2 separate regions of the Homo sapiens genome follow, and region 1 is linked to region 2. The links come from fine-mapping of genetic effects on gene expression. A gene starts in region 2. The other region holds a variant in brackets. All regions are shown on one strand. Distances are between the middles of the regions.

Region 1 (5,372 bases), 310 kb before region 2:
TCATTTAGTAAAATTTTCATTTCAGTTATTTTACTTTATAATTCTAGAATTTCTGTTTGATTCTTTTTTTATAGCTTCTATTTCTCTGTTGAGATTCCATATTTATTGAGTCATTGTTAAACATTTTTATTTAATTCCTTGAACATATTTATAATATGTGCTTTAAAGTCTTTGTCTGCCAAATTCAACTTCTGGGCCTACTCAGAGTCAGTTTTTATTTTTATTTATTTTTTTTTTTTTTGAGACAGAGTCTCACTCTATCACCCAGGCTGGAGTGCAGTGGTGCCATCTCGGCTCACTGCAAGCCCCGCTTCCCAGGTTCACACCATTCTCCTGCCTCAGCCTCCCAAGTAGCTGGGACTACAGGCGCCCGCCACAATGCCCGGCTAATTTTTTTGTTAGCCAGGATGGTCTTGATCTCCTGAGCTCGTGATCTGCCAGCCTCGGCCTCCCAAAGTGCTGGGATTACAGGTGTGAGCTACTGTGCCTGGACTCAGTTTTTATTTTGTTTTTTATTGTTTTTTTTTTTGGAGACAGAGTGTTGCTCTGTCACCCAGGCTGGAGTGCAGTGGAATGATCTCAGCTCACTGCAACCTCCGCCTCCCAGGTTCAAGCAATTCTCCTGCCTCAGCCTCCCCAGTAGCTAGGATTATAGGCGCCCACCACCATGCCTGACTAATTTTTGTATTTTTAGTAGTGACAGGGTTTCATCATGTTGGCCAGGCTGGTCTCAAACACCTGACCTCAGGTGATCCACCCGCCTCGGCCTCTCAAAGTGCTGGGATTACAGGCGTGAGCCACTGCACCCGGCTAGTTTTCATTGACTTTTAAAATCAGGATATGAGTTACTGTTTTTTAGGTTTCTTCGCATGTGTCATAATTTTTTTCTTGAAAACTGATCATTTTATCCTCTTCCTCCTCTAAAAAACTGGTCATTTTAGATAATAGACTGTAATAACTCTGGATTCTGTTGTATTTTTCCGAAAGGTGGTGATGCTGGTGATGCTGATGGGGTGTGTGTGTGTGTGTGTGTGTGTGTGTGTGTAATTTGGAGTTAAACCGTAGAGTCTGGATTCTATTGTATTTTTCTGAATGGTGGTGATGCTGGTGATGCTGATGTGTGTGTGTGTGTCATTTGTCTGGAGTTAAACTGTAGAGTCTATCATTCCACAGTGTGCAGCTGCTAATGTGTCTGCTCAGTTTTTATTCTCGTTTTTTTTGTTTGTTTGTTTGTTTTGTTTTGTTTTGTTTTGTTTTGTTTTGTTTTGTTTGAGATGGAGTTTTGCTTTTGTTGTCCAGGCTGGAGTGCAATGGCATGATCTTGGCTCACTGCAACCTCTGCCTCCAGGGGTCAAGTGATTCTCCTGCCTCAGCCTCCTGAGTAGTGAGTAGCTGGGATTACAGGCATGCACTACTATGCCTGGCTAATTCTGTATTTTTAGTAGAGACAGGGTTTCTCCATGTTGGTCAGGCTGGTCTTCAACTCCTGACCTCAGGTGATCTTCCCACCTCGGCCTCCGAAAGTGCTGGGATTACAGGCATGAGCCACCATGCCCGGCCATTTATTCTTGTTTTTAAAATTTTCCCACAGGGGTCAGGCATGGTGGCTCACCTTTAATCCCAGCACTTTTGGGAGGCCAAAGCGGCTTGAGCTCAGGAGTTTGAGACCAGCCTGGGCAACATACCAAGACCCCATCTCTACTAAAAATACAAAAACTTAGCAGGTAGTGGTGGCATGTACCTGTGGTCCCAGCTACTCATGAGCTGAAGTAGGAAGATTGCTTGCGACTGGGAGGCAGAGGTTGCAGTGAACCGAGATCATGCCACTATACTTCAGCCAGGGTGACAGAGTGAGACCCCTATCTCAAATAATAATAATAATAAATTTTTCCAGCCAGGTGCAGTGGCTCATGTCTGTAATCCCAGCACTTTGGGAGGCTAAGGTGGATGGATCACCTGAGGTCAGGAGTTTGAGGCCATCCTGGCAAACATGGCGATACCCCATCTCTACTAAAAATACAAAATTTAGCCGGGCATGGTGGCACCCAGCTATACTCTCAGCTACTCGGGAAGCTGAGGTAGGAGAATTGCTTGATCCTGGGAAGTGGAGGTTTCAGTGAGCCAAGATCGAGCCATTGCACTCCAGCCTGGGCGACAGAGTTAGACTCCGTCTCAAAAAAAAAAAAATGTTCCCTCAAGGATTAGAACAGGAATTAAAAGAAATTAAAGACTGTAGGCCGGTCGCAGTGGCTCATGCCTGTAATCTCAGCACTTTGGGAGGCTGAGGTGGGTGGATCACAAGGTCAGGAGTTTGAGACCAGCCTGGCTAACACGGTGAAACTCCATCTCTACTAAAAATACAAAAAAATTAGCCAGGCATGGTGGCGGGCACCTGTAGTCCCAGCTACTCGGGAGGCTGAGGCAGGAGAATGGCGTGAACCTGGGAAGCGGGGCTTGCAGTGAGCCAAGATGGCGCCACTGCCCTCCAGCTTGGGCAACAGAGTGAGACTCTGTCTCAAAAAAAAAAAAAAAATTAAAGACTGTGTAAGCAAAAACTCAGTTGTATGTAAGAAAACCCAATTCCCCCTTGAGGAACAGAAAGGGCTGGAGTCCTTTAAAATTAACTGCCTGTTTTTCTCTCTGTGGCTAGTGAGCCTTATCTCTCCATTTACCAGGCATTGTGAAGACTCTGTTTCTCTAGCTGTGCAGCTGCAAGGTCACTAGACAGATAATCTCAAGTCGTAAAACATGTTGTTCCTTGAACAGTAAGAAATAATGTAATGCATGCCT[T/C]AACTGAATAACTGTCTTTGTCTCTCGCTTCTATAATACGCTTCCCCCCGCACAGATCTCCCCCCACCCCACGAAATGCTTAAAAGGTAGCTTGACTCTTTGTTCCAGGCTCAGTCCTTTGGATGTTAATCCAACTGGGTCAGTGAACCTAAATAATTAAATAACTCCTCCTCAATCCCTCGGTCTCTCTGATTCCTTAATTATCCCGCAGCAGTATCACCCCTATGCTTACATAGCACAGTGTTCAGCCAATGATTAGAATAAGCATTGTGTTCCAACACCTCAAGCCCATATAGCATCCACTTCTGCCAATATATCTGTTTGAAGGATGAGAAGTGTATTAAAATGTGCAGCAGTGTTCAAGTCTTCCTTGTCTTTTATTTTTCAGGGAGCTCTCTGAGCTATCCTCCATGCATATGATAGTTTCCCAGTGAGCCAGGGATGTGGGAGAGCTTATCTCAGCCCTTTTGTAGTTTCCTATTTTCCAGCTAAATTTCTGGCTTTTCCACCACTGAACACAACTAGGAGTGCTACTTTGAGTTAGTACAGCTAGAGGGTTTTTTGCCTGTTTATTTCCTACCAACTTCATATCATTCAGCTGAGAACATTGTAGGCTTTTGTCCGCCTCCACCTAACTAACTCCTACAATTTCAGTCTACCCACTGTGACAGCAAACATTGCTGATTTTCACAGCCAGTTCCATACTGGTAAAACTACAGTTCCCAGCCACCAAGGAAGTTGGATGGGAGCAGCCTCAGGCAAGAAGGCTGCAAACTCACATTGCTTTTGCTTGAAGCTGTAGCAGTTTTTCAAGAATAAAAGCTCCTCAATTTGTTTTCTGCCTTGCTCAGTTTCCAGAGACTTGAAATCATTGTTTGGGGCAATTTTATTTAATTTCATAGTTTTTTTGGTGAAGATTCACAGATCCCTTTACACTGCTATAGCCAGAAGTTCCTTGGTGTAGTTTTTATTTATTTATTTATTTTAATGTATCTTATTTTTATTTTTATTTTTTTTGAGACAGTCTCGCTGTGTTGTCCAGGCTGGAGTGCAATGGTGTGATCTCGGCTCACCGCAACCTCTTCCTTCAAGGTTCAAGCGATTCTCCTGCCTCAGCCTCCCAAGTAGCTAGGATTACAGGTGCCTGCCACCATGCCCAGGTAATTTTGTATTTTTAGTAGAGATAGGGTTTCACCATGTTGGCCAGGCTGGTCTCAAACTCCGGACCTCAGGTGATCTGCTGCCTCGGCCTCCCAAAGTGCTGGGATTACAGGCATGAACCCCGCGCACGTTCCTTGGTGTAGTTTTAAATTGACATGAGTGTTACTGTGCAAACAATATGGTTTTGTTTTTTCACTCATTACTATTTTTAAGATCTCTCCATGTTGTCTTTTGAATATTTTGTATATCTGCTGAGTAGCATTCTATACTATGCAACTCCCATATTTAACCTTTCTTTTTCTTTCTTTCTTTCTTTTTTTTTGAGATGGAGTCTCGCTCTGTTGCCCAGGCTGGAGTGCAATGGCGTGATCTCAGCTCACTGCAACCTCCATCTCCCAGGTTCTAGCGATTCTCTTGCCTCAGCCTCCCAAGTAGCTGGGACTACAGGCGCCTGCCACCATGCCCAGCTAATTTTTGTATTTTTAGTAGGGACAGGGTTTCACCGTGTTGACCAGGCTGGTCTCGAACTCCGGACCTCAGGTGATCTGCTCTCCTTAGCCTCCCAAAGTGCTGGGATTACAGGCGTGAGCCACTGCACCAGGCTTATATTTAACCTTTCTACTTTGCTAATGAAAGTCACCCAAAACTGAGTTCTAACATTGAGCTTCCACAAATAATGCTGTGATAAATATTCTTGCATGTGACCCCTTATGAATCTAGACACAAGTTTCTCTGTAACGTATATGAAGGAGTTGAGGACTAAACTCTAATTTTTTTTATCTTGCCCAAATTCCTATCTAAGGGATCTGGGGAGTCATGACCTACAAATCATAAATTCTCATCAGATAGGTTTTATTTAACCCTATATATCATGATTTACTTTCCAACCTGACTCTGGTATAACATTACGAGACAAAGAAGAAAATCAAAATATTTTACCCCAAAACATGTTTCTTTGTCATATTTTAAAATGCCCCTGCAAAGCTGTTCTTTGTGGGGAAAATCTACATCCATAAAGAATCTCTATTAACATAGCCAGGGCTGGGGGCGGTGTCTCATGCTTGTAATCCCAGCACTTTGGGAGGCTGAGGCAGGAAAATCACTTGAACCCAAGAGTTGGAGGCTGCAGTGAGTGGAGATCGCGCCATTGCACTCCAGCTTGGGAGACAGAGCGAGGCTCCATCTCAAAAAAAAAATATATATATATATATATATTTATACATAAATACATATATATAAAAATACATATACATATACATATATATAAATATATATATGTGTATATATATATACATCTTTTTCTTCCAGATCCTCCCAATCCTAAAGAGACTAACTGAGATCTGAATAGGAAACATTTGTCACCTATTGTCTCCAAGGCAGCCATTATGAGACTTCAAAAGAGCTTTGGTCTCCACAATCTT
Region 2 (5,372 bases):
AGAGATTGAGCCATTGCACTTCTGCCTGGGTGACGAGCAAAACTTTGTCTCAAAAAATAAAATAAAAGTAAAAACAAAGGTTGGGCGCAGTGGCTCACGCCTGTAATCCCAGGCCTTTGGGAGGCAGAGGTGGGTGGATCACCTGAGGTCGGGAGTTCGAGAGCAGCCTGACCAACATGGAGAAAGCTCGTCTCTACTAAAAATACAAAATTAGCAGGGGGTAGTGCGGGTGTCTGTAATTTCAGCTACTCGCGAGGCTGAGGCAGGAGAATCGCTTGAACCAGGGAGGCGGAAGCTGCGGTTAGCCCAGATCACACCATTGCACCCCAGCCTACGCAACAAGAGCGAAACTCCACCTCAAAATAAACAATAAAAATTAAAAAAATAAAAATAAAAATAGGCCGGGCGCGGTGGCTTACGCCTGTAAACCCAGCACTTTGGGAGGCCAAGGCGGGCAGATCACGAGGTCAGGAGATCAAAACCATCCTGGCTAACACGGTGAAACCCCGTCTCTCCCTAAAATACAAAAAATTAGCCGGGTGGTGGCGGGCGCCTGTAGTCCCAGCTACTCAGGAGGCTGAGGCGGGAGAATGGCGTGAACCCAGGAGGCGGAGCTTGCAGTGAACCGAGATCGCGCCACTGCACCCCAGCCTAGGTCGACAGAGCAAGACTCCGTCTCAAAAAAAAAAAAAAAATAGGGCCAGGCGTGGTGGCTCACGACTGTAATCCCAGCACTTTGGGAGGCCGAGGCGGGCGGATCAGAAGGTCAAGAGATCGAGACCATCTGGCCAACATGGTGAAACCCCATCTCTACTAAAAATACAAAAATTAGCTGGGCGTGGTGTCGGGCACCTGTAATCCCAGAGGATTACAGGTACTCCAGAGGCTGAGGCACAAGAATCGCTTGAATTCGGGAGGCGGAGGTTGCAGTGAGCCGAGATTGCGCCACTGCACTCCAGCCTGGCGACAGAGCAAGACTCTGTCTCAAAAAAATTAATTAATTAATTAAAAAATAAATAAAAAATTTTTTTGAAACAGGATCTTACTCTATCACCGAGGCTGGAGAGCAGTGGCATCATAATCGTGGCTCACTACAGCCTTGGACTCTTGGGCTCAAGTGTTCTGCCCACTTCTGTCCCCCAAGTAGCTGCGGCTGGGACTACAGGCCACACCACCATGTATGGCTAATTTTTTTTTTTTTTTTTTTTTTTTTTTGTCGAAGCAGTCTCACTATGTTGCCCAAGCTGGTCTTGAACTCCTGGGCTTAAGGGATCCTCTCACGTTGGCCTCCCAAAGTGCTGGGATTACAAGTGTGAGCCACCGCAACAGGTCTTAGATAATATTTTCTTTCTTTCGTGTTTCGTATTTTTTTCCACCCCCAGCACACATATAGCAAGAATAATTTTTTTCTAAAGGCAGAGATAAACTTGTTTCTCTTTTACTCTCTTTCTTTCTTTCTTTTTTTTTTTTTTTTGAGACGGAGTCTGGCTCTGTCGCCCAAGCTGGAGTGCAGTGGCGCAATCTCGGCTCACTGCAAGCTCTGCCTCCCGGGTTCACGCCATTCTCCTGCCTCAGCCTCCCAAGTGGCTAGGACTACAGTCGCCTGCCACCACGCCCGGCTAATTTTGTGTGTGTGTGTGTATTTTTAGTAGAGATGGGGTTTCACCATGTTAGCCAGGATGGTCTCGATCTCCTGACCTCGTGATCCGCCCGCCTCGGCCTCCCAAAGTGCTGGGATTACAGGCGTGAGCCACCGCGCCCGGCAAACTTGTTTCTTTATACCCGTGCTGTTCATATTTCAGCTTCCTGGTTACCAAGGCTACACATTCATGGCCTATTGAGTGAGATTTCAGGAGTACTGCACCTTAAGTGGGCCATATTAAAAGATTCACGTAAAGAATGACATTTTTAGTTCAAATCTCTGTTTTCCTAAGCTATTTGGTCAGAGAAATCACACATGGGTCCCCATAAGAGAGATCGTTCCAACTGAAGCCCCAGGATGTGTCTAGGTAGGCTGTGTGTGTTGGGGTGGTGGGGCCGATTCTGTATAACTAATTTACGTTTTCACCCTGTTCCACCAGGGGGCAGACTGACTCAACAAATAACCTACTTCTGCGCATCCCGCTTTTTTCAAAGTGAATTGGGACCCATAGAACTAAGGGCTTGGACAACTAACAGTAAAATTCTAGGACTGCCTTTTACTCAGCCCCAGAAACCGATGATAACTCATCTTCTAGCTTCGTTGAATAGCATCTCCAAAACTCAGCCCCATTTTTTTTTTTCAATTTCTAGTGCTCTCCCTACCTTCACCCTTATTCCCAAAACTCTTGGTTCTCTTCCCCTAATCCCTCTAAAATTTCTCTTCTAAAATTTCTGGTCGTCGTGGTTAAACCTCTACTTCCCTTCACCCCAGCCTCTCTGGCCTCAGAATGGAAGAGTAAGGTCCTAAGAGGGGAGCTACAATTACCGAAAGGCTGTGGAAAATAGCGAGAGAGACAGGCCGGCCTAAGCTAGGAAGGGAAAACCGAGAGAACAGAGGCCGGGCTGGCAGCCTTGGCCTGCTCAAAAGGGTGGGCGGGCAGGGGGTGGAGCCCGGAGGGGTGCCGCCTCTCCTCTTTCCCGGAGCCTGGGCGGAGAGGGAGGAAAACTTCTTCCTGGCCTGGGCTCCGTGCCGCTCTGTTTGCCAACCGTCCAGTCCCGCCTACCAGTGCCGGGCGCTCCCCACCCCTCCCCCGGCTCCCCCGGTGTCCGCCATGGCCAAAGCCTACGACCACCTCTTCAAGTTGCTGCTGATCGGGGACTCGGGGGTGGGCAAGACTTGTCTGATCATTCGCTTTGCAGAGGACAACTTCAACAACACTTACATCTCCACCATCGGTGAGCCCGCTGGCCATGTCCCAGACCCCGACTCTCCTGTGACCTCCTTCTCCGGCTCCCGGATTACTAGTGACCCCACTTTTCAGTCCCCTTAGAGTAAGGCTCCTAAATTCTAGTCCCTCAACCCCTGGCTCTGACCCTTCCCCCGTGCATGTCTCTGTATAGTAACCAAACCTCTCACCTCTCTGAGGCCTTCAGGTAACTCTTCAACTGCTGCCAGCTCCTCATTTTCTTGGTACCATCGCCTTAGTCTCCCCAAATCCACAAGAACTCTTCTCTATTTTTCTCTGTTCCCCTCTTCCCCTACCCCCACCACCTAGAACTCTCTCGATCCTATCTCCATGTTTCCTGTATCCCTGTCCGCCACATCTTTTTCTCCCGATCCGATGCTAGCCTCTTTCTGTCTTGCTGAGCTTCAAACTCTCCCACTGTGTCCCCACCTCACCATCTACTTCCCAGGTTCCCTGCCCCAGTCTCCCTGCACCTCAGCTGAACAAGGGTTTGGGAAGGGTGGAACAAGGTGGCTGGGTGTGCTGGAGGGTGGCCCAAGGACTGTGATCATGAATATGCAGCCAGCTTGGTGAGGAACGTGGAAATGAGGGGACTTTTGGGGTCTCTGAGTCAGCCTGGTGACTCATCCTCCTCCCAGGGGCCCCCAGCAGGCTTGGGGGAGGTGCCCAAGTTTCTACTAAGAAGAACATTGTCTCCCCTCCTCCCTTCTCTTCTTTCTTCATCTCCTCTGGCTTGGGAAATAGACAGGAAGAGTCTCACGACAATTCTGGTTACAAAGGAAAAGGAAAAATGCCCCTCTTTCCTAATTGTCTCAAAAGTAATCCTGTTTAGCCTCAGACTTTCCTAGTGCCAAGTTTGGCCCACTAGTTAATTCACATAGACTGGCTTCAGCTACTTTTTTCCTTACTCTCTACTAGGAGGGTAGGTGGGATACCAAGAGTAGAGGGCTCTAAGAAAACAGAGAAGAGGAATGTGAAAGTAATATCTGGGGGGAGACAGAGACTGAATTCAGAGAGTTGTCAGCTGGTATAACTGAATGGACCCAAGAGGCAGCCTAAGGATTTTAAGCCTCCATGCAGAATTTTCGTCACCTTTTCCCTCCCAAAATCCATAAAATGTACGTAAAAATAGTATTCTTGCTATACAAATACAGCTTTGGGAAAATTCTCCTAGCTTGGCATTTCCAACAAGATTGTTCCCCAAGTGCCTCCCCTGCAGAATTTCTGGTGCCAGCACTGCTCCGTTCCTGTCCCTTCCATCACACAGTTTTACATGTGTGCATGCATGTCTCAACTTCAGTGCATACCTTCCACCCCTAGGAATTGATTTCAAGATCCGCACTGTGGATATAGAGGGGAAGAAGATCAAACTACAAGTCTGGTAAGTCAGTCCTCTGGGATGCCTCGCCAGACTTCCCCATTTACCTCCTACACGTTTTTCCTTCTATTTTGTTTCATTTCTCTTCCTTTCCCCATTGCTCCTTCTAGAAGTGCTAGAAGGAGCACTTCTGGCATTTCTCCGGATGCACTCAGCTGTCCTTCCATCTCTCTTCCTGCTCTCCCAACTAGTTCCAACTCTTTTGTAACTCTTGCCTCCTCTGGCTGCAGAGCATCCTCTTAATTTGACAACAAACAACTGTTCAGTCATAACATGGAAACAGGCTGTGAGCAGTTAAATGGCAAAGGCAGAATTAAGACTTGACTCTAAGTCTAGTGTTTTCTCCAAAATATGGTGAGCCCAGAGAGCCAAATATAGACCCTGAAGGTGTTTAAGTGGTATGAAGCTTAGTGGAGGCATTATGCTATGACATATAAGAGCAGACTGGTGCGCAAATCTGGTTCTTTTAGTTATCTCCTGCCTGACCTTCATTAATTATTCAGCCTATCCAAATCTGTTTCCTCTTTTTTTTTTTTTTTTTTTTTTGAGACAGAGTTTTGCTCTTGTCACCCAGGCTGGAGTGCAATGGCACAATCTAGGCTCACTTTAACCTCCGCCTCCTGGGTTCAAGTGATTCTCCGACCTCAGCCTCCCAAGTAGCTGGGATTACAGGCGCCCGCCACTAGGCCGGGCTAATTTTTGTATTTTTAGTAGAGACGAGGTTTCACCATGTTGGCCAGGCTGGTCTTGAACTCCTGACCTCAGGTGATCCACCCGCCTCAGCCTCCCAAAGTGTTGGGATTATAGACGCAAGCCACGGCACCTGGCGTGTTTCCTCATTTTTAAAATAGAGACAATAATACATGTCTTACAAGGAAAGAGTAAGGATTAGATAAAATGATACATACACAGTGCTTGACACATAGCAAACATTCAATGAATAAGCAAAGACATCTTGTTTCTTGGGCCACTACCATCTCTGGAAATCAGCTCAACTGTCTTTAATCCCGTTCCCCTTTACTGTTTCCTTATTCTGTTGCCCCACCATGTTACAAAAGCTAAATTCTTGTGAGAGAGGAAGAATTATTCCGTTGGAGAATTCTTCC

The links. PIP is the estimated chance that this variant, and not a neighbour inherited with it, causes the effect.
Region 1: its variant is the best candidate, but not a certain one, in a credible set for the expression of RAB13 in blood mononuclear cells (TOPMed, PIP 0.64).

Annotation. Positions count from the first base shown.
Region 1 is chr1:154,289,175-154,294,546 of GRCh38, reverse strand. No RefSeq gene overlaps it. Among named protein-coding and RNA genes, the nearest start is that of HAX1, 19 kb to the right of the region's middle. The variant T/C (reference allele first, on the strand shown) is at 2,791.
Region 2 is chr1:153,983,618-153,988,989 of GRCh38, reverse strand. It overlaps RAB13 (RAB13, member RAS oncogene family), which reads left to right and starts at 2,651. Exons shown (of 8, transcript NM_002870.5): 1 at 2,651-2,877; 2 at 4,209-4,269. The coding sequence starts at 2,754. RefSeq lists a silencer at 2,567-2,736 and enhancers at 2,548-3,049, 3,363-3,592.